Homo sapiens: one gene and its partner. The protein of the gene in region 1 interacts with the protein of each later gene in a biochemical or structural test. Each region holds a gene or a part of one and is shown on either strand. Other genes may lie near its edges. The genes, in order: PPP2R2D and DAPK1.

Evidence for each region.
Region 2: of the proteins of PPP2R2D (region 1) and DAPK1, one has a biochemical effect on the other in vitro, tested with the Homo sapiens proteins (one study listed by BioGRID).

What each region holds. Positions count from the first base shown.
Region 1 is NC_000010.11:131,951,885-131,962,058, forward strand, and holds the end of PPP2R2D (serine/threonine-protein phosphatase 2A 55 kDa regulatory subunit B delta isoform), read left to right. Parts: intron 1-3,799; coding exon 3,800-4,079; 3' UTR 4,080-7,950; downstream 7,951-10,174. UniProt on the Homo sapiens protein: Substrate-recognition subunit of protein phosphatase 2A (PP2A) that plays a key role in cell cycle by controlling mitosis entry and exit. Involved in chromosome clustering during late mitosis by mediating dephosphorylation of MKI67.
Region 2 is NC_000009.12:87,499,556-87,509,729, reverse strand, and holds part of DAPK1 (death-associated protein kinase 1), read right to left. Parts: intron 1-10,174. UniProt on the Homo sapiens protein: Calcium/calmodulin-dependent serine/threonine kinase involved in multiple cellular signaling pathways that trigger cell survival, apoptosis, and autophagy.

The DNA of each region.
Region 1 (10,174 bases):
TAGCAAGTGAGGACCCCAACTGGGGATGGGATAGGAGACCATCTTTCTTTCCAGAGTGGCAACACAGTGCAGGGGGGTCCCTGTCTTAGCAGTGACTTGCTGGTGTGCAGAGGGGTCACTCTCTTAGCAGTGACTTGCGGGTGTGCAGGGGGTTCACCACCTTACCAGTGACTTGCAGGGGGTCCCTGTCTTAACAGTGACTTGCGGGTGTGCAGGGGGGTTCGCTGTCTTAGCAGTGACTTGCGGGTGTGCGGGGGGGTTCACTGTCTTAGCAGTGACTTGCGGGTGTGCAGGGGGTTTCACTGTCTTAGCAGTGACTTGCGGGTGTGCGGGGGGGTTCACTGTCTTAGCAGTGACTTGGGGGGTCCCTGTCTTAGCAGTGACTTGCGGGTGTGCGGGGGTTCACTGTCTTAGTGACTTGCGGGTGTGCGGGGGGTTCACTGTCTTAGTGATTTGCATGTGTGGGGGGGGTTCACTGTCTTAGTGACTTGCGGGTGTGCGGGGGTTCACTGTCTTAGTGACTTGCGGGTGTGCGGGGGTTCACTGTCTTAGCAGTGACTTGTGGGTGTGCGGGGGTTCACTGTCTTAGTGACTTGGTGTGCGGGGGGGTTCACTGTCTTAGTGACTTGTGGGTGTGCGGGTGGTTCACTGTCTTAGTGACTTGCGGGTGTGCGGGGGGTTCACTAGTGACTTGCGGGTGTGCGGGGGGTTCACTGTCTTAGTGACTTGCGGGTGTGCGGGGGGTTCACTGTCTTAGTGACTTGCGGGTGTGCGGGGGGGTTCACTTAGTGACTTTCGGGTGTGTGGGGGTTCACTGTCTTAGTGACTTGCGGGTGTGCGGGGTTCACTGTCTTAGTGACTTGCGGGTGTGCGGGGGGTTCACTGTCTTAGTGACTTGCGGGTGTGCAGGGGGTTCACTTAGCAGTGACTTGCGGGTGTGTGTGTGGGGTTCACTGTCTTAGCAGTGACTTGCGGGGGGGGTCCCTGTCTTATCAGTGACTTGCGGGTGTGTGTGGGGGGTTCACTGTCTTAGCAGTGACTTGCGGGGGGGGTCCCTGTCTTATCAGTGACTTGCGAGTGTGCGGGGGTTCACTGTCTTAGTGACTTGCGGGTGTGCAGGGGGTTCACTGTCTTAGTGACTTGCGGGTGTGCAGGGGGTTTCACTGTCTTAGCAGTGACTTGCGGGTGTGTGTGGGAGGTTCACTGTCTTAGCAGTGACTTGCGGGGGTTCCCTGTCTTAGCAGTGACTTGCAGGTTTGCGGGGGTTCACTGTCTTAGTGACTTGCGGGTGTGCGGGGGGTTTCACTGTCTTAGCAGTGACTTGCGGTTGTGTGTGGGGGGGTTCACTGTCTTAGCAGTGACTTGCGGGGGGGTCCCTGTCTTAGCAGTGACTTGCAGGTATGCGGGGGTTCACTGTCTTAGTGACTTGCAGGTGTGCGGGGGTTCACTGTCTTAGTGACTTCCAGTTGTGCGGGGGGTTCACTTAGCAGTGACTTGCAGGTGTGTGGGGGGTTCACTGTCTTAGCAGTGACTTGCGGGGGGTCCCTGTCTTAGCAGTGACTTGCAGGTGTGCGGGGGTTCACTGTCTTAGTGACTTGTGGGTGTGCGGGGGGTTCACTTAGTGACTTGCAGGTGTGCAGGGGGTTTCACTGTCTTAGCAGTGACTTGTGGTTGTGTGTGTGGGGGTCACTGTCTTAGCAGTGACTTGCGGGTATGCGGGGGTTCATTGTCTTAGTGACTTGCGGGTGTGCAGGGGTTCACTGTCTTAGTGACTTCCAAGTGTGCGGGGGGTTCACTGTCTTAGCAGTGACTTGCGGGTGTGTGGGGGGGTCACTGTCTTAGTGACTTGCTGGTGTGCGGGGGTTCACTGTCTTAGTGACTTGCGAGTGTGCGGGGGGTTCACTGTCTTAGCAGTGACTTGCGGGTACATGGATAGTCACTGTATTTTTTATTCCTCTTGATATATTTCAAATATTGCAAAATACCCTTAGATTACATATCCCCAAGAACATCTAAAAGCGTTCCCAGTAACATTTGCTTAGTCCATTCACTCTCAAAAACACGCCAGTCTTCCTACCTGGAAACTTCTGTTGAGGGATGCGATGAAGGGGAGTGAGGCGTTTCAGTGCTGCCTCAGCCCAATCCTGATTCTCCGTGTGGCAGCGCCTTCTTGTGTTCTAGGTCGCCCCACAGAACCAGTTATGTGCTTACGCCTGTGTCTCTGTCTGTGCTGTTCCCTTCCTGGGCCAGCACCAGGCTGCTGGGCAGCGCCCTTGTTTGCAGTGTGGAAACACCCACTCTGGGGCTGGCACTATCTGTCGAGAATTTAAAAGTGATCATAAATCTGTATGAAAGCTGATGTGCTTTTCGTTATTACCATGCACCAGCAATTCCAGTCAGTGTCGGCCATACATCATCTGTCGTCTGTGTTCTGAATAATGGTTACTGTTGAGTTTTAATAACATAAATGTAAGCTTCAGATTCACACATTCTTATTACTTACCCTTTCGTAAACATTGTGTTTTATGTGGAAACTAATTTGGGGAACCCCCAGTCAATGGCCCTCACGTGCCAACTTGGCTGCATACCCCTGTTCCAAGACCACGTGCACAGCTTGGCATTGCTGGAGGGCGCTGGGCACACCTTGTGTCTCCCGCCTCTGTGGCGCTGTGGGCTCCTGGATGGAAGCAGGAGATGGGAAATAAACATGGATCGCTGAATGCAGTTTCTCTTCTCTGAGTTCGTCTTTTTTTTTTTTTTTTCCCCTGCTTTGAAGTTTTAGACAAGGTCAGTCAGACACTAGGTATTTGCCAGCAGCCAGGGTCAGTGCTGGGCCATGGAAGGGAAGCGGCCCGCTTCTTTCTCATGGCACCTTGAAGACGCGCCAGCGTGAAAGGCCTCTCACCGCGCATGACCATGGGGGCAGGACGTGAGGGCGCGGGTTAGTGTCAAAATAGGAAGAGGAGGCGAGCTTCAAGGACGGCTGGAGAAACCAGAAGGGCATTGTTTGAACACATCTTTCATCAGAAACTGGACTCATGAAGCCATGGGTCAAATCATGGCAGCGTTTGCATCATTCAGCTATTTTTCTGTCATTTTTGTAGAAAATGTAAGATTGCAGAGGTTTTTACCAGTATTATGAAGTTATATCATGAGGATGTGTGCGGTAGTAGAATTTTTCGACAGCAGAGACATTTGAAAGCCATTACAGTTGATCTTGAAGAAACAAAAGCATGGACGGTATTGTATTGTCTGGAATGTGTGTGAAATGCAGTTGTTCTAAAATTCTGCCACACTTTGCCCAGTGGATTTTTACTATTTCTATCCGTTGCCTCATTTGAAAGAAACTTTTTGAAATTAATAGAAAAGCAGTTTAACTCCAAAGAAACATTGACAGATATGACTAGTAACTGTTGAACATGATAAGGATTATGTTCAGGTCATTATGGATCATTGACAAATTGCAGAACATAAGGCTTAAAAATAAACTGTGCTGTTATTCATGAGTGAGATAAATAGGTGGGGTTGTTTCAAAAAATACACTAATGTTAAAAGTGTGACTCCATTATTTTGTTTCTCCTGTGACATGGATTCTTACTGACATGATTATAGATAAAGCTCGGTACACATTTTCACTGCATTTCTCTTCTGCCCATTGTGATTGATCATTCCTGATTTCTGAAAGTAACTGGGTTGTGGGGGAGGGTGGCGTGCGCTGTGCACCCCAGGGGTGGGGTCTGAGTCCTTGCTGCCGCTCCCCCCACTGAGGAGTGCTGCTGTCTGCTCTTGTTTTGAACAGCGCCATCATGACCGGGTCCTATAACAACTTCTTCAGGATGTTTGATAGAGACACGCGGAGGGATGTGACCCTGGAGGCCTCGAGAGAGAGCAGCAAACCGCGCGCCAGCCTCAAACCCCGGAAGGTGTGTACGGGGGGTAAGCGGAGGAAAGACGAGATCAGTGTGGACAGTCTGGACTTCAACAAGAAGATCCTGCACACAGCCTGGCACCCCGTGGACAATGTCATTGCCGTGGCTGCCACCAATAACTTGTACATATTCCAGGACAAAATCAACTAGAGACGCGAACGTGAGGACCAAGTCTTGTCTTGCATAGTTAAGCCGGACATTTTTCTGTCAGAGAAAAGGCATCATTGTCCGCTCCATTAAGAACAGTGACGCACCTGCTACTTCCCTTCACAGACACAGGAGAAAGCCGCCTCCGCTGGAGGCCCGGTGTGGTTCCGCCTCGGCGAGGCGCGAGACAGGCGCTGCTGCTCACGTGGAGACGCTCTCGAAGCAGAGTTGACGGACACTGCTCCCAAAAGGTCATTACTCAGAATAAATGTATTTATTTCAGTCCGAGCCTTCCTTTCCAATTTATAGACCAAAAAATTAACATCCAAGAGAAAAGTTATTGTCAGATACCGCTCTTTCTCCAACTTTCCCTCTTTCTCTGCCATCACACTTGGGCCTTCACTGCAGCGTGGTGTGGCCACCGTCCGTGTCCTCTCGGCCTTCCTCCGAGTCCAGGTGGACTCTGTGGATGTGTGGATGTGGCCCGAGCAGGCTCAGGCGGCCCCACTCACCCACAGCATCCGCCGCCACCCCTTCGGGTGTGAGCGCTCAATAAAAACAACACACTATAAAGTGTTTTTAAATCCAAACAGAAGTATTGTCTTTTTATTTAATTTTATTGCATAGAATGAAGTTATGCAGGGTTCTTCTTTGGAACTAACTGTTTGAGAAATGTGTGTCCTTCTTTGGCAGCGTGGGGGTATGTGTGCAGCATTTCTGTCCCCAAGCTGCTGCCCGCTGTGTTTCTGTAGAAGTAGCCCATCAGATACACCAGGTAAGGTCTGGGAAAAGCCAGAACCGAGGCCACCTCTGAGAAAGAAAATTGCAAGGAAGAACCAAAATTGCTGCCATCCAGTAAGCCTGGTTTAAAGTAGCTTCAAATTCACTACAGTTGAAGAAATACGTGCTTGCTTTCTAAGGCTTTTGAAAAAGCACTTTGGGGAAAGTATACTTTTTAAACATTGCTAAAATTACATGCATGCTAAATTTCATCCTGCATTTCAAGCCAGCAAAATTAAGCAATTTTAATTACACGATGCCACCAGTACGTTGGTTTATTTTCAAAGTAGGATCTTTGATACCAGAAATCAAGATTTTCCAAGACAAATAATACAGAGCTGTACCAATGCTGAGTGACCAGAGCTTGCTTCCGTGGGATTTAACACACGCCCACTACGTGTCCCCGAGGGGAGTGGGGAGTCGGGCTCCCGTGCCCCTGTGGAGATGGAGGTGTGTGCTGATCCCCCGTCCGCCTGTGGAGATGAAGGTGTGTGTTGATTCCTCCTGCTGCTGTGGAGATGGAGGTGTGTGCTGATCGCCCGTCACCCTGTCTAGATGAAGGTATGTGCTGATTGCCTGTGCCCCTGTGGAGAAGGAGGTGTGTGCTGATCCCCTGTGCCCTGTGGAGATGGAGGTGTGTGCTGCTCCCTCGTGCCCCTGTGGAGATGGAGGTGTGTGCTGATCCCCCATCCCATCCCCCTGTCTAGATGAAGGTGTGTGCTGATTCCTCATGCCCCTGTCTGGATGAAGGTGTGTGCTGATCCCCCGTCCCCCTGTGGAGATGAAGGTGTGTGCTGATCCCCCGTGCCCCTGTGGAGATGAAGGTGCGTGCTGATCCCCCATCTCCCTGTGGAGATGAAGGTGTGTGCTGATCCCCATCCCCCTGTGGAGATGAAGGGATATGCTGATCCCCTGTCCCACTGTGGAGATGAAGGGGTGTGCTGATCCCCCGTCCCCCTGTGGAGATGAAGGTGTGTGCTGATCCCCCATCTCCCTGTGGAGATGAAGGGGTGTGCCAATCCCCCGCGCCCCTGTGGAGATGGAGGCGTGTGCTGATCCCCATCCCCCTGTGGAGATGAAGGTGTGTGCTGATCCCCCATCCCCATGTGGAGATGAAGGGGTGTGTTGATCCCCTGTCCCCCTGTGGAGATGGTGTGTGCTGATCCCCGTCCCCCTGTGGAGATGAAGGTGTGTGCTGATCCCCCATCTCCCTGTGAAGATGAAGGGGTGTGCTGATCCCCCGTGCCCCTGTGGACATGGAGGCGTGTGCTGATCCCCCGTCCCCCTGTGGAGATGAAGGTGTGTGCTGATCCCCCATCCCCATGTGGAGATGAAGGGGTGTGTTGATCCCCCGTCCCCCTGTGGAGATGAAGGTGTGTGCTGATCCCCGTCCCCCTGTGGAGATGAAGGGGTGTGCTGATCCCCCATGCCCTGTGGAGATGGAGGTGTGTGCTGATCCCTCGTGCCCCTGTGGAGATAGAGGTGTGTACTGATCCCCTGTTCCCCTATCTAGATGAAGGTGTGTACTGCTGATCCCCCGTCCCCCTGTGGAGATGAAGGTGTGTGCTGATCCCCCATCCCCCTGTGGAGATGAAGGGGTGTGCTGATCCCCCGTCTTCCTGTGGAGATGAAGGTGTGTGCTGATTCCTCATGCCCCTGTGGAGATGGAGGTGTGTGCTGATCCCCCATCCCCCTGTGGGGATGAAGGTGTGTGCTGATCCCCCATCCCCCTGTGGAGATGAAGGGGTATGCTGATCCCCCGTCCCCCTGTGGAGATGAAGGTGTGTGCTGATCCCCCATCCCCCTGTGGAGATGAAGGGGTATGCTGATCCCCTGTCCCCCTGTGGGGATGAAGGTGTGTGCTGATCTCTTGTCCCCCTGTGGAGATGGAGGTGTGTGCTGATCCCCCATCCCCCTGTGGAGATGAAGATGTGTGCTGATCCCCCGTCCTCCTGTGGAGATGAAGGTGTGTGCTGCTTCCTCGTGCCCCTGTGGAGATGGAGGTGTGTGCTGGTCCCCCGTCCCCCTGTGGAGATGGAGGTGTGTGCTGATCCCCCGTCCCCCTGTGGAGATGGAGGCGTGTGCTGATCCCCCATCCCCCTGTGGAGATGAAGGCGTGTGCTGATCCGCCATCCCACTGTGGAGATGAAGGCGTGTGCTGATCCCCCATCCCCCTGTGGAGATAAAGGTGTGTGCTGATCCCCCATCCCCCTGTGGAGATGAAGGCGTGTGCTGATCCGCCATCCCACTGTGGAGATGAAGGCGTGTGCTGATCCCCCATCCCCCTGTGGAGATGAAGGCGTGTGCTCATCCCCCATCCCCCTGTGGAGATGAAGGCGTGTGCTGATCCGCCATCCCACTGTGGAGATGAAGGTGTGTGCTGATCCCCCATCCCCCTGTGGAGATGAAGGTGTGTGCTGATCCCCGGTCCCCCTGTGGAGATGAAGGTGTGTGCTGATCCCCCGTCCTCCTGTGGAGATGAAGGCGTGTGCTGATCCCCCGTCCCCCTGTGGAGATGAAGGCGTGTGCTGATCCGCCGTCCCCCTGTGGAGATGAAGGCGTGTGCTGATCCGCCATCCCCCTGTGGAGATGAAGGCGTGTGCTCATCCCCCATCCCCCTGTGGAGATGAAGGCGTGTGCTGATCCGCCATCCCACTGTGGAGATGAAGGTGTGTGCTGATCCCCCATCCCCCTGTGGAGATGAAGGCGTGTGCTGATCCCCGGTCCCCCTGTGGAGATGAAGGTGTGTGTTGATCCCCCATCCCCCTGTGGAGGTGAAGGTGTGTGCTGATTACTAATCCACATGGGCAAGAACAGGATGTCCGTCATTACCCTGAATCAATGCTAACACAGTGCCACTTGAGTTCACATTAAGTTAGAAATTGAGAATCTAAAGGTACCTTTATTTTAACTAAAAAATAATTTATATACTGTATATTGATTGTGACACAATTTACAAAGTCTGAGGTGTGGAACAGTTATTTAAGCATTAGTCAACCCTGGTCCTTAAGACAGTTCTAGTAAAATGGGATTGTATATATTTGTTCAACTATTTTGACCAAAAAGTTCAATAAATTTTAAATGTTTAACTGGATTTTCACTGCGTATTTGGACACCCTTTTCCATCTTCCTCTAGAATGTATTTCCCACTAAATAGCCCACCTCCTCCACCCCCAGGGCAGAGCAGAAGGTGCAGCCCAGGCGGGTCCCGTGTGTAGAGGTTCCACGTGGCACTGCTGCTCCCGTGGAACTGCCACTGCCTTGAGGTCTGCGGCGCACGTTCCCTGGAGGTGTCGTCACCTAGCTCTGGGGCGCCTGCGGGGGAAGCCACCTGGCCAGCAGTCCTGTCCGTTTCTGTGGGTTCTCCCCAGTGCAGTCTTGATGTTCTGAGAGGCGCTGGCAATTCCACGCACCTATGTCCGCAAAAAGCAGGATCCATTCACTTTAGAGAAGTGCCCTCAACAGGCGCGGAGGAAGACGTGCCCTCAACAGGTGCGGAGAAAACTTCTCTTTCCTGCTTAAAGTAGAACAGTGTCATCAGCTTCTGAAGGTTAATGCTGAGCACAGTTTTCATTGATGAGGATTCTGGGCCCGTGGTTCAGGTGGAGGTTTGCTGCTCTCTGGGCTGATGACCCGGATTCCATGAACACACTTTCTTCGTAAGTGGATTTAACGTGCCTTTTTTGAAAGAAAAATGGAGCTCCTATGAACCAGTTTATGATGCCCTCGTGGACAGACTCAGTCTGATTTTGGAGGCCACACGACTGGCAGGTGTGGCTGGAGACTGCAGCATGTGCGTGTCTGTCTGTCCTGTGTGGAGCCAAATCATCACCATCAGTGCCAGAAGCCTCCCAAAGCCCAGTGCCATGGGATTGGTGTGTGTCCTGCTCCCGGCCGGAAGAAGCTGGCCCTGGATCCGCCTGGCCCGGCTGCTCTGCATCACCCCTTTGCTTGCTTGGGAGGAAGAGTGGGTCTGGGGCTGCGGAGGCTCTCCGGGTGGCCTTAAGCTTGCTTTCTCCTAAACCTGTGCTGTGCGTCCTTGGCCAGCGGCTTTGGCATCAGCCAGGGAGTGGGGGAGTGAGGTCAGAGCCAGCAGGAGTCCGGGCTGTGCTGGGTAGCAGAGGTCGCATCTTCCCAGAGCTGCAGGCAAAGGGACAGGATGGGCTTGCTGTATGAGGGCGTGGCTCTGCTCGTCCTGGGCTGGGCCAGGGGTGCTGAGTGGGGCTGTAGCCGCATCTTCTGTGGCGAGCTGTCCTGTCGTTGCTGTGCTGGGATCGCCAAGGGAGAGGGACGGAAGCTGTCCGTGAGCTGGTGAGACAGCAAGCCAGGAATCCAGCCACAGGTGGGGAGACAATGCAGCTCAAACTGGTGGAGCTGCAAGGGCCCACAGACCACCTTCAGACGCTGCCCGCGGCCGACGCTTCCCCAACCCCTGGGAGAGGCCTGGGCCTGGGGGCCTGGCGGGCCCCGCGCTCTTCCCTTGGGTCCCGTCCTCCGAGGGGGCTGCCTGCCAAAGCCAAGTTCAGCAGTCCCCGACAGTGGGCTTCTCTGCACAGGTGGTGTGCAGGGGTGGGTGGAGTGTAGACCAGATGTGAGTAAAGGCAGCACCCCCAGCCCCACAGGGCTGTCACAGCTCAGGCCCTGCAGAGCTGTGGGGTTTGGCTGCTGTGGGTGGCAACCCCTCCTAAGTGCCTGCTGCAGGTGGGCGCTGGGCCAGGGCTTTCCCTACAGCCACCCTGGCCATGGGTCACAGACGCACACACCACAGCACCCGGCTGGGCACTGGGGTGATACTGGGCTTGGCTTTGAGCTCCGTGCCTCTGTGCCCCATACGCCCCTCAGATCTCTGGTGACAGTGCGGGGCTGCCTACAGGACACCCAGGGCTCCTTGATCTTTTAGGAACTGCGGCACCCCCGAAGCTGTGACAGGTGCAGAGGCGCTGCCGTCCTGGGCCGGGCCTCACCTTCCGCCTTGTGTGCTCTGGCGCCAGCACCCAGTCCCAAGGGCACAGCGGCTGCGACTTGCCTCTGGCCAGGGCAGGTGGTGGTGTCATACCCAGGACGGGAACCCACACTTGATGTCCTCCAGGGTTTTTTTTTTTTACATTATCTTAAGGACTGACAGTCTCCCACCCCATCTGCTCCCATCTGTCCCTAATTTCATGCGCCTCCGCCTGAGTTCCTGCACGCATTTCCTGAATAAACACACCCCTGTGCCAGTCAGAACCCGCGGGGGTTTTGGAAGTGAGAGCCCAGCAAGGCAGCTGGCCAGGGGGCGGCACTGCCCTCCGGGGAGCACCGGTGCCCGGGACTCTGCT
Region 2 (10,174 bases), on another chromosome or scaffold:
AAGCCAATATCTAGGAAGACAATTTTCTATATTCCCATCCCAAGTGCACAGAAGAAAACGCTGGCAGGATGGCCGGGCGCGGTGGCTCACGCCTGTAATCCCAGCATTGTGGGGGGCCGAGGCGGGCGGATCACCTAAGGTCAGGAGTTCAAGACCAGCCTGACCAACATGGAGAAACCCCATCTCTACTAAAAATATAAAATTAGCGGGGCGTGGTGGTGCATGCCTGTAATCCCAGCTACTCGGGGGGCTGAGGCAGGAGAATCGCTTGAACCCGGAGGCAGAGGTTGTGGTGAGCTGAGATTGCGCCATTGCACTCCAGCCTGAGCAACAAGAGGAAAACTCCATTTCAAAAAAAAAGAAAAGAAAATGCTGGCAGGCTGTGCTTTCAATTATACTGATTTATAGGCCAATGAAATATTATTTTAAGGTAATAAATAACTTTTTAGCGCTTTTTGCCTTACCAAATTCCTAAGGACAGCTCTTCTGTGTATTATATACCATTCAGCATCTCCAACATGAGCAGCACCCATTAAAAGTCTGTTCTCTACAGGATACGTATACCTGCAGCGCCTGTAGCTTTGTTTTTATAAAGCCAAACAGCTTGTAATTCCTAGTCTATTAAATATTACACTCCAAAGGTTGCAGCCTTTCATCACTTTCCCAGAGACACACATTTCTGCTGCTTACCCATAAACCACAGATGGCCTCAAAAATTGAGCTTTACACAGAGGAGGCAAAACAATTTCGAAAAACTTCTCAAAGGAGGGTGGAAATATCGGAACTGAATCAACACTAAATTCTGACCTCTTCTCTCTGCCTGTCCCATGGTATCCTTCCGCCACTTTTTTTCTTGCATTGCTTTAGGTGTACCTATCCTCTCTGAGGCAGCCCAGTCCTGGATAGACATATGAGGTGCTAGGCAGACAGACAGGCAGCTCAAAGGAAAATCTAATCATTTTCATGAATGGGGAAAAAAAAGAATGGCATTGATGACTTTCTCTACATGTCTTTTTCACCTGGAAAATTCTATACTGTGGGTCAGGTGTCAGGGGTTGTAGTAAGGTCTCAAAAATCCTGACAATCGTGGCCGGGCACGGTGGCTCACGCCTGTAATCCCAGCACTTTGGGAGGCCGAGGTGGGCGGATCACGAGGTCAGGAGATAGAGACCATCCTGGCTAACACGGTGAAACCCTGACTCTACTAAAAATACCAAAAATTAGCCAGGTGTGGTGGCGGGCACCTGTAGTCCCAGCTACTCGGGAGGCTGAGGCAGGAGAATGGCGTGAACCCGGGAGGTGGAGGTTGCAGTGAGCCGAAATCGCGCCACTGCACTCCAGCCTGGGCGACAAAGCAAGACTCCGTTTAAAAAAAAAAAAAAATCCTGACAATCTTTCTAAGGTGAAAAGGAAAAGTTGGACCAGTGCGGCGACTCACACCTGTAATCCCAGTACTTTGGGAGACCGAGGAGGGCAGATCACCTGAGGTCAGGAGTTCCAGATCAGCCTGGCCATCATGGTGAAACCCCGTCTCTACTAAAAACACAAAAATTAGCCGGGCGTCGTGGCGGGTGCCTGTAGTCCCAGCTACTCAGGAGGCTGAGGCAGGAGAATCACTTGACTCAGGAGGCAGAGGTTGCAGCGAGCCAAGAGCATGCCACTGCACTCTAGTCTGGGTGACAGAGCGACACTCCGTCTCCAAAAAAAGGGAAAAGTTTATACAGTTTCAAAAGTAAAAGCAATGAACTAAGACATAACTATTCAACAATGAAAAGTAGTTCATTTTTGTAGGTGAAAATTTATAATATCAACTGCACTTAAAATATTTGCCAGCCAGCCTCATTCATCACATATTTCCTAAATAAGAATAATCAGGCAGTTTTGACAGAAAAATAAAATGTGTCCCAAAAGAAGTCCGTACCTCGAGCCAAATTTCCCAGCCAAAACCCATCAGGCTTATGAATATAAGTGCCATCAATATAAACTTTTCACACTTCAGAGATCGGCAGTTTACAAGCATTCATTTGCTCAAACATTATGTTCTTCGTCCAAAGTTGTATGTGTTTATAAAGGGAAAAAAAAAATCAACAACATTCTCCCAACCTCCTTCCCTCCCCTCCCCACCACTCTGGCATCTCTAATTATATGTTAGGTTACTGAATAAAATTTTTCAAGCTCACAACTGAAACATCGAAAGGTAGTACATAAGGTAAAAGCCCCGTGAACACCAGATGCGGTGGCTCATGCCTGTAATCCCAACACTTTGGGAGGCTGAGGCGAGCAGATCACCTGAGGTCAGGAGTTCAAGACCAGCCAGACTAACATGGAGAAATCCTCTAAAAATACAAAATTAGCCAGGCGTGGTGGTGCATGCCTGTAATCCCAGCTACTTGGGAGGCTGAGGCAGGAGAATCGCTTGAACCCAGGAGGCGGAGGTTGCAGTGAGCCGAGATAGCGCCATTGCATTCCAGCCAGGGCAACAAGAGCGAAATTCCGTCTCAAAAAAAAGGCCCCATGATCACTTCTCAGAAGTAAGCAACATTATACTTCAATGACCACAGTGTGATCCATATGCCACACCAGCTGTCAATGTCACCTAAAGACCAAAGTGACAAACCCGCGTCACTATTGGACCACGCTTGTCAGGTATCTCCAGAGATTAGTTACTATCACATGATTGTTTTGTTTTGTTTTGGATTGGGACAGAAGATAAAACACAACTATTTTAGGTTTTAGATTTTTTATTTGTAAAAACCCACCCAGCACATTAACTCTAGAGCTGGGATACAACTGTACTTACCTAAGAAAGATTTAATAGTTAGAGAAAGTTAGTTTAAATCCATTTTAGTTAGATGATGTGGAAAATCGGAGTGTCAACTTCTTTTTTCTTCCACCTTCTTCTAACTGCACCTTTAAAAAAATTCGTTTATAATAGAATGTACCCAAAGTCATACACTGAATTTATTATAATTGTACTGTCATATAACCTCTTTCAAGGCCGAGAAAGGATGCATTCCATTTGTATAATTTACCCCAACAAACCAGAACAAAACAATTAAATATTATCTTCCACATAAAGTCTCAAACAATCACACACCAACTCTAAGCTAGCCAGACTAGTTGTTGCGTAAGGAAATGAGAAACTGTTGGTCAGTGGCAGGTAGGTGCACGGGTCAGAGACAAGACTCTTAGACATTACATAACTCAAAAGTTAAATAACAATGAAAGTGTTTTTGGAGTTTTCTAAAAAGGTAAACCATTAACTTGGGACTTGAATAAAACTACGCCACATGTTGACATCATTCCAAACTGCAAGGCTGAAGCCATTTGGAAAAGGAAAGAAGGTCCCAGTGTGTCGTTAAGGCCTGCGAAAGTTCTGAGCTCAAAGGGCAGACCCTGTTGCCTTTGGCTGGGCTTCAAATGAAAACCTTCCATGAAGGGTCTACTATTTATCCCTAACCATTTTCTCCATGCAGATGCTGAAATAAATTGGCGCCAAATGGCTGCCTACTTCACCTCTCTTAAATATCAACTTCATCTGGCTTTCAAAGATGGAAAACTGCCAAATCCTAAATAGCACAGATAATGAAATAGGCCTGGCCCTGGGTTCTGGGTCCATGTCTTGCCACCTTTTAATCAGCTGCCTGGAGAAAGCCACTTGACCTGTCTAAACACAGGTGGATAAAATGTGAAGGGAGGCAATGCTGGTCACTCAGCCTTCTTCCAGGTCAAAGTCCCGGCCAGGCACAGCGAGAGGCTGACGCTTATAATCCCAGCACTTTGGGAGGCCGAGACGGGCGGATCACTTGAGGTCAGGAGTTCAAGACCAGCCTAGCCAACATGGCGAAACCCCACCTCTACTAAAAATAAAAAAATTAGCCAGGTATGGTGATGCATGCCTATAATTCCAGCTATTTGGAGGCTGAGACAGAGAATCACTTGAACTGGGGAGGCAGAGGTTGCAGTGAGCCAAGATCGCCCCACTGCACTCTAGCCTGGGCAACAGAGCAAGACTTCGTCTCCAAAAATGCAAAAGGCCAGGCACAGTGATTCATGCCTGTAATCCCAGCACTTCGGGAGGCCGAGGAGGGTGACTCACGAGGTCAGGAGTTCAAGACCAGCCTGGCCAAGATGGTGAAACCCCGTCTCTACTAAAAATACAAAAAATAAGCCAGGCACGGTGGCAGGCGCCTGTAATCCCAGCTACTTGGGAGGCTGAGGCAGGAGAATCACTTGAACCCAGAGGGCGGAGGTTGCAGTGAGCCGAGATCACGCCACTACACTCTAGCCTGGGCAACAGAGTGAGACTCCGTCTCAAAAAAACAAAACAAAATCAAACAAACAAAAAGACACAAACAAACAAAGTCCCTGAGCTCTCTGGGGTACTCTTCCCCAATGGAAACCACTCCCCTCTTGTCAGAAGAGTGGCTTCCTTTGTCTCATAATCAGAAATAAATTTCTACTAAAATAATATTCACTTAATTTATACAAAATGTTAGGTACTCATGGCAGTTGGCTAGAATGAAGGATGAAAGTTCCTAACACATTTCCCTGCTGAGTCAGGCAATGTGACCTTGACCATGCCACTCCCAGATATCAGATATCCAGCAGCTCAGCCCCTCACCCCTAATCATCTGGAAAGAAGTGGTCTGGATTACAACTCTGCTAGGAGGGAAGAGAACAAGGTGGAAGAGCCAATGTTGCCTCTCCTGATATAACACCTGTATACAACTACAGTCAGCCCTCTGGATCTGTGGGTTCTGCATCCATGGATTCAACCAACCTTGTACCAAAAATATTCAGGAAAAAACTGCATCTGTACTGAACATATACAGACTTTTTTTTCTGGTTATTATTCCCTAAACATTATAATGCTACTATTTAGTTAGCATTTACATTGTACTAAGTATTGTAAGTAATCTAGAGATGATTTAAGATATATGGGAAGATTACATCAGTTATATGCAAATACTATGCCATTTTATATAAGGGACTTCAGCATTTGTGGATTCTGGTGTCCCCAGAGGTCCTGGAACTAATCCGCCATGGATACCGAGGGATGAGTGCACTGGAATTTATCTGGACATCCATCTCTGTAGGTTTCTTATGAGTTTTTCATGGCTTTGCAGAGGCATATACCAATGATATGGGGCCTTCAGTTTCCTCATTGGCCGGGGAGACACAAGCTGAGGGTAAAAGAGCATGGGGGACCAAGAAGTGAGCTTCCATGTTCCCTGGCTTCCCGACCAATAAGCACCTCCACCTACTCTGTTCCTGGCCCCCTTGAACCTAAATTTGATGCCTGCCCTAGTAATCCAGCAACACACTCCCAGTGCCAGCAAGCAAGCATTCAACCAAACTGCCACTTACTAACACCATCATGCTTTCCCTTCACATCCTGGAAAATTATTATTAGACCTTCCTAAAATGTACACACTTTTAAAATCACTAACCGTTGCCTTTAATCTATGTAGCTGAACTTTATCTCTCTTAAAACTTTGGACCCTTTCCTATCAGAGGAAACATCTGAGAGCATTCTGAGTCAAAAATGCTAAGAGGAAAAATGTCACATTCAGCACAGTCCTATAAGGATGCAGAAACCCACCGGTGGCCTGCGGTTCCCATTTCTGAAGAAAAAACATGCCAGAAAGTCTCTCCCCTTCTATGAGCCACACAGGGTTGCCATTATTCATAGGACTGACTCCTGCAATCCACAGTAAACCGGTCTAGAGAAGCACTTGGACTGCCAGGGCTTATGACAATTTCTTACTTCAATTAAAATGCCTATGGATTTTATGCCGAAAGGGGAATGTTTTAAACTTGAATTATTAGCTTCCAATGACCATCCAAACCAATGTAAAATATTTAATGCTCCACTTCATTTGTTTTGTTTAAAACTGATCTTGTGCTTGAAAATTTTGGCTGCTGTGCTCATTACTGTTCAGCCACAAAGAATGCAAAAACAAGAGCAGTTTTTATTTTGATGAGCGGCAGCCATTATATCCTAAGTGTTCATCTTCACCACAAGCCATCATTTGTTGAGGCCCTAATACATACATATTCTTTCAAGTTGCTTTACATATATTGATCCACTCAGTCTAGTCTAACAGCATGCATTTACTGAGCGCCTTCTAAGTGCCATGCATCAACCTGGGCATTAGAAATAAAAAGTGAGGAGCAAGTCCAAGGTAATGGCCCCATGGAGAAAGCAGATCATCAAATAAGCAGTTACTATGCAATGTGGTAAATGCTGTGATGGAGAAAACAGGTTATTAAAAATAATAAAAATGATATATTAGAGGCCAGGCACAGTGTCTCTGCCCTATAATCTCAGAGCTTTGGAAGGCCAAGGTGGGAGGACTGCTTGAGCCCAGGAGTTCAAGGTTACAGTGAGCTATGACTGTGCCACTGCACTCCAGCCTGGGAAACAGAGTAAGACCCTGTCTCTAAAATATATATATATATACATATACACACACACATATATATAAAAAACATATACATATATATATATTTTAGACACATCACACTTAGTAGGTGTTCAGTAAATGCATATCTACCTGTAGACTAGAAAGACAGACTGCATGTCAGATGTTTAAAGCCACGTCTGTAATTCTAACAACACTCTACCAGGGTAGGTGTCTCCCCACTTTCCAAATGAGCATTCTCAGGTTTTTCCACACTGCACACTGCCTCTCTAACAGTATCAGCATCAGCATCATCGTTTGCATCTTACATCCCCATTCTGGTCTCAAAATTACACTTGCCAAACTGCATTAGCTCATTGAGGCATGCATTAATCCCAATATTGATCATAGATACCAATTTGCAGGAAGTCTATGAAACCCTGCACACCATGGGGAGAAAGGACCACAACAACTCCAAACCACAGGGCACACCCCAAAGAAACTCACAAGCTGGCTGCAAAGAGTAATACAAGACTAATAAACATGAAACAGGATAAACATGTCACTGGGCAGTCTATGGTCATGGACAAAGAGAGTCTCAGAGAAGTCACTTGACTTTAAAAGGGGAAACTCATTGTGGAAGGATTCATTAAGGAAGTAGGACTTAGGTCTTAAGATCATATAAGGTCAGATGGTGCAATAGGAAAGAAGGCCAGTCCCTCAGGAAAGCAGTGTACACAGAGAGGTGCCCAGGAGGCTCACAGGTTAGGCTGAACGACGGCCAAGGGTGTAACTAGAGCCCGACAATGGGGCAAGTCAGCCTGCAGCTGCCCGAGGTGCCAACTGATAAGAGATGCTAGGGCATCCTGGGGCATTAAAACACCTCGGTATAATAGCAGATTTATAAGAACTCCTCCCAGAGACTATTACACATCATGGAGGCAGTTCTTTGTTCCGCCTCCTGGGACAGAGGGTGAGACCCTAAAGGGCCTCCAGGAGCCAAAACTGAAGGCCACCAAGCACCCTTCTAAAGATAACAAGTGCATCTGCTGCAGGGACTTGCTTCTGCTTGGAGGGTGTGCCAGCTCAAGGCCAGGGCTGCATTATTCAGAATCATAGTGGAGGCTGAATGCTGTCAGCAACCCTTCTCCCCATGACCCTTTTCCTATAAGGCATCCCCTCCCAAAGCTGGTAAACAGAAACTTAAAGAATATTGACTTGCCGGCCAAGTTATTAGCTTGCCTGGGGCACCCAGATGTCTCAGCCAGTCTACAGATAATATCTATATTTGTTTAACTCTCTACTGCTGATCAACTACTTTTACAAGTTAGATTATTTTTACAACAGCAATGAAAAAAGCACTAAACCTCTCATAGAGGAAAATCCTGAGTGTCAGAGTGGGTAAATGGCCTGTTCAAGAAAACTGGCAAGTTGCAGAGCCAGGTTTTGGACCAGGGTATCTGTCCAGTGGCCCATCTGCTCTATTACTGCTGCAGATGGACTGCTGCAATAGTTGCAATACTCTATAAAGTTCCTGACCGTTGACAGAGAGCTTTTACAGAAGTCTTAGGCAGTACACACAAATACGAACATTTTCAATTTTCCTAAAAGTAAAATAACATTAACAATAATACTTGTACTCTACTTCTTCAAAAACCCATCTTTCCTCCTGGCTATGTACTTTGTCTCACTACATTTATAAGGTAAGTGAATCGTTATTATTTAGATGACTGCTAAAGATATATAAGTAAAGTCTTTTTTTTCTTTCTTTTTTTTTTGAGACAGAGTCTCGCTGTATCACCCAGGCTGGAGGGCAGTGGCGCGATCTCCATTCACTGCAACCTCCGCCTCCCAGGTTCAGGCGATTCTCATGCCTCAGCCTCCCAAATAGCTGGGACTACAGGCGCGCGCCACTGCGCCTGGCCAATTAAAGTCTTAAATCTTAGATAATTTTTTTTGTATTTTTAGTAGAGACAGGGTTTCACTATGTTAGCCAGGCTGGTCTTGAACTCCTGACCTCGTGATTTGCCTACCTCAGCCTCCCAAAAGTGCTGGGATTACAGGTGTGAGCCACCTCGCCTGGCCAAGTAAAGTCTTAAATCTTAGATACTGGTCTACTAGTAATTCACTGCTTAGAATGACCTTGCATTTGTGCCACATATCTGCCCATTTCCATTTTCCTGCCACCAAACTCCTGCCTCCACTCCCAATCTTCCCTCAGTGACACGTGATGTCATATAAGCAGCATCTTCCTACATGTCCATTTTACATTAGGACTTGTTTTCAGGAAGTGGCTACATCCAAGGCAGACATAAAATCAGGACTTGAAAAATTTTCCAAAAAACAATCATTCACTCATTTTTTGGCAAAAACAATAGCAGTTATACAAGATAGATGAGTCTGTACATTTCATTTTTAAAAACTTCAGACTTCCAGTTTTTCAGAGCATTTCTTTAAAATTCCTAGGTCACACAAATTATTTAATAAACAATTTGTCAATTTGCCTTGCACAGTGGGGAGAACGTTATACACAAAAATGTACACTGAGCAAATCAAAGTGCTAGTGACAAATAAGTAAGCCACCTCCCTCCCCTCATCATCACGCCCACGAAATAAAGATCAAAAACTCCCTTCGCCAACCACAGGGAGGCCTCTTTTTCTATTTCTTTCTCATAACACATAATGGTACCAAAAAATCATAATGAAAATAAGGTCAATATACTTAATCCATAATATAATAATCTCAACTAATTTTAGTCATCTCTCTTTCTAACAACACTTAAACGATCAGGCCACACTATGCAAATCAAATTAAAATTTATTTTTTTGCTTTTTTCTTCCAGTCCCAAAGGAAAACTCCAAATACCACTCATCTTGCTGAAAACCACAGTAAAGTTATTTAATTCCAGTTAAACCAAATATTTCACCCACACACTCTTAAACTTTAATCTTAAACATATCCATGAAATGTGATGTTTGAAGAGCTTTCCTTATTTACTCACCAGATCATCAATATACAGAGAGCTCTTCCTAAGCACAGGCCCCCATCTATGTTTTCAGTCGATACTAAATATTTAGAGAAATACTCTGTTACAGTAACTTTTAAAAAAATTCTACACTATCATTTGAATTTTTAAAAAAATTTAGTTAAGCTTAGTTTCCATAATTCTCATTAGGCAATCCAGGATGTGGGTGTTTTTTAATTTCCTTTTCATGGAGAAAAAGGAAGCTTTGTATCAGGACATCAGATGTATATGGGAAAATACATATTTCAATGCACATATAAGTAAATACATATTTTGTTTGTTTAAAGATCCTTTTGCCTACTCCACTCACAATGTAAATACACCACAGTCAAATTCCATAAATTCAGTTTTAAATGTATGTATGAAAACTAGGTTTTCTACTAAAGTTGACCAGAGCCCAAAACACTCTGTCTAATACACAGTCAAAGGAAACAGCAATCAGCCCTTAGATGCCCCGAAAGAAACTATTCTTTGTTTACCTAGAAACTGAAAGATTTTACACTGAGAATCACAGCTGCTACAGCAATGGAGGTATGCTCTGAATCCAGATAGCCATATTAGACTCTCATTGATTTGTTAAAAATTTAACATTGTAAATGAAACCAAAGCAACCACCAACACCAACCAGGTAATTAAATTCCTGGTTGGAAGAAGTTTCAAAATCCAAGCCCAATGTCAACATCTGGCAAGTCTCCATTTACCACCTACCAATACTTGCTCAAATTACACTGAAAATTTAGA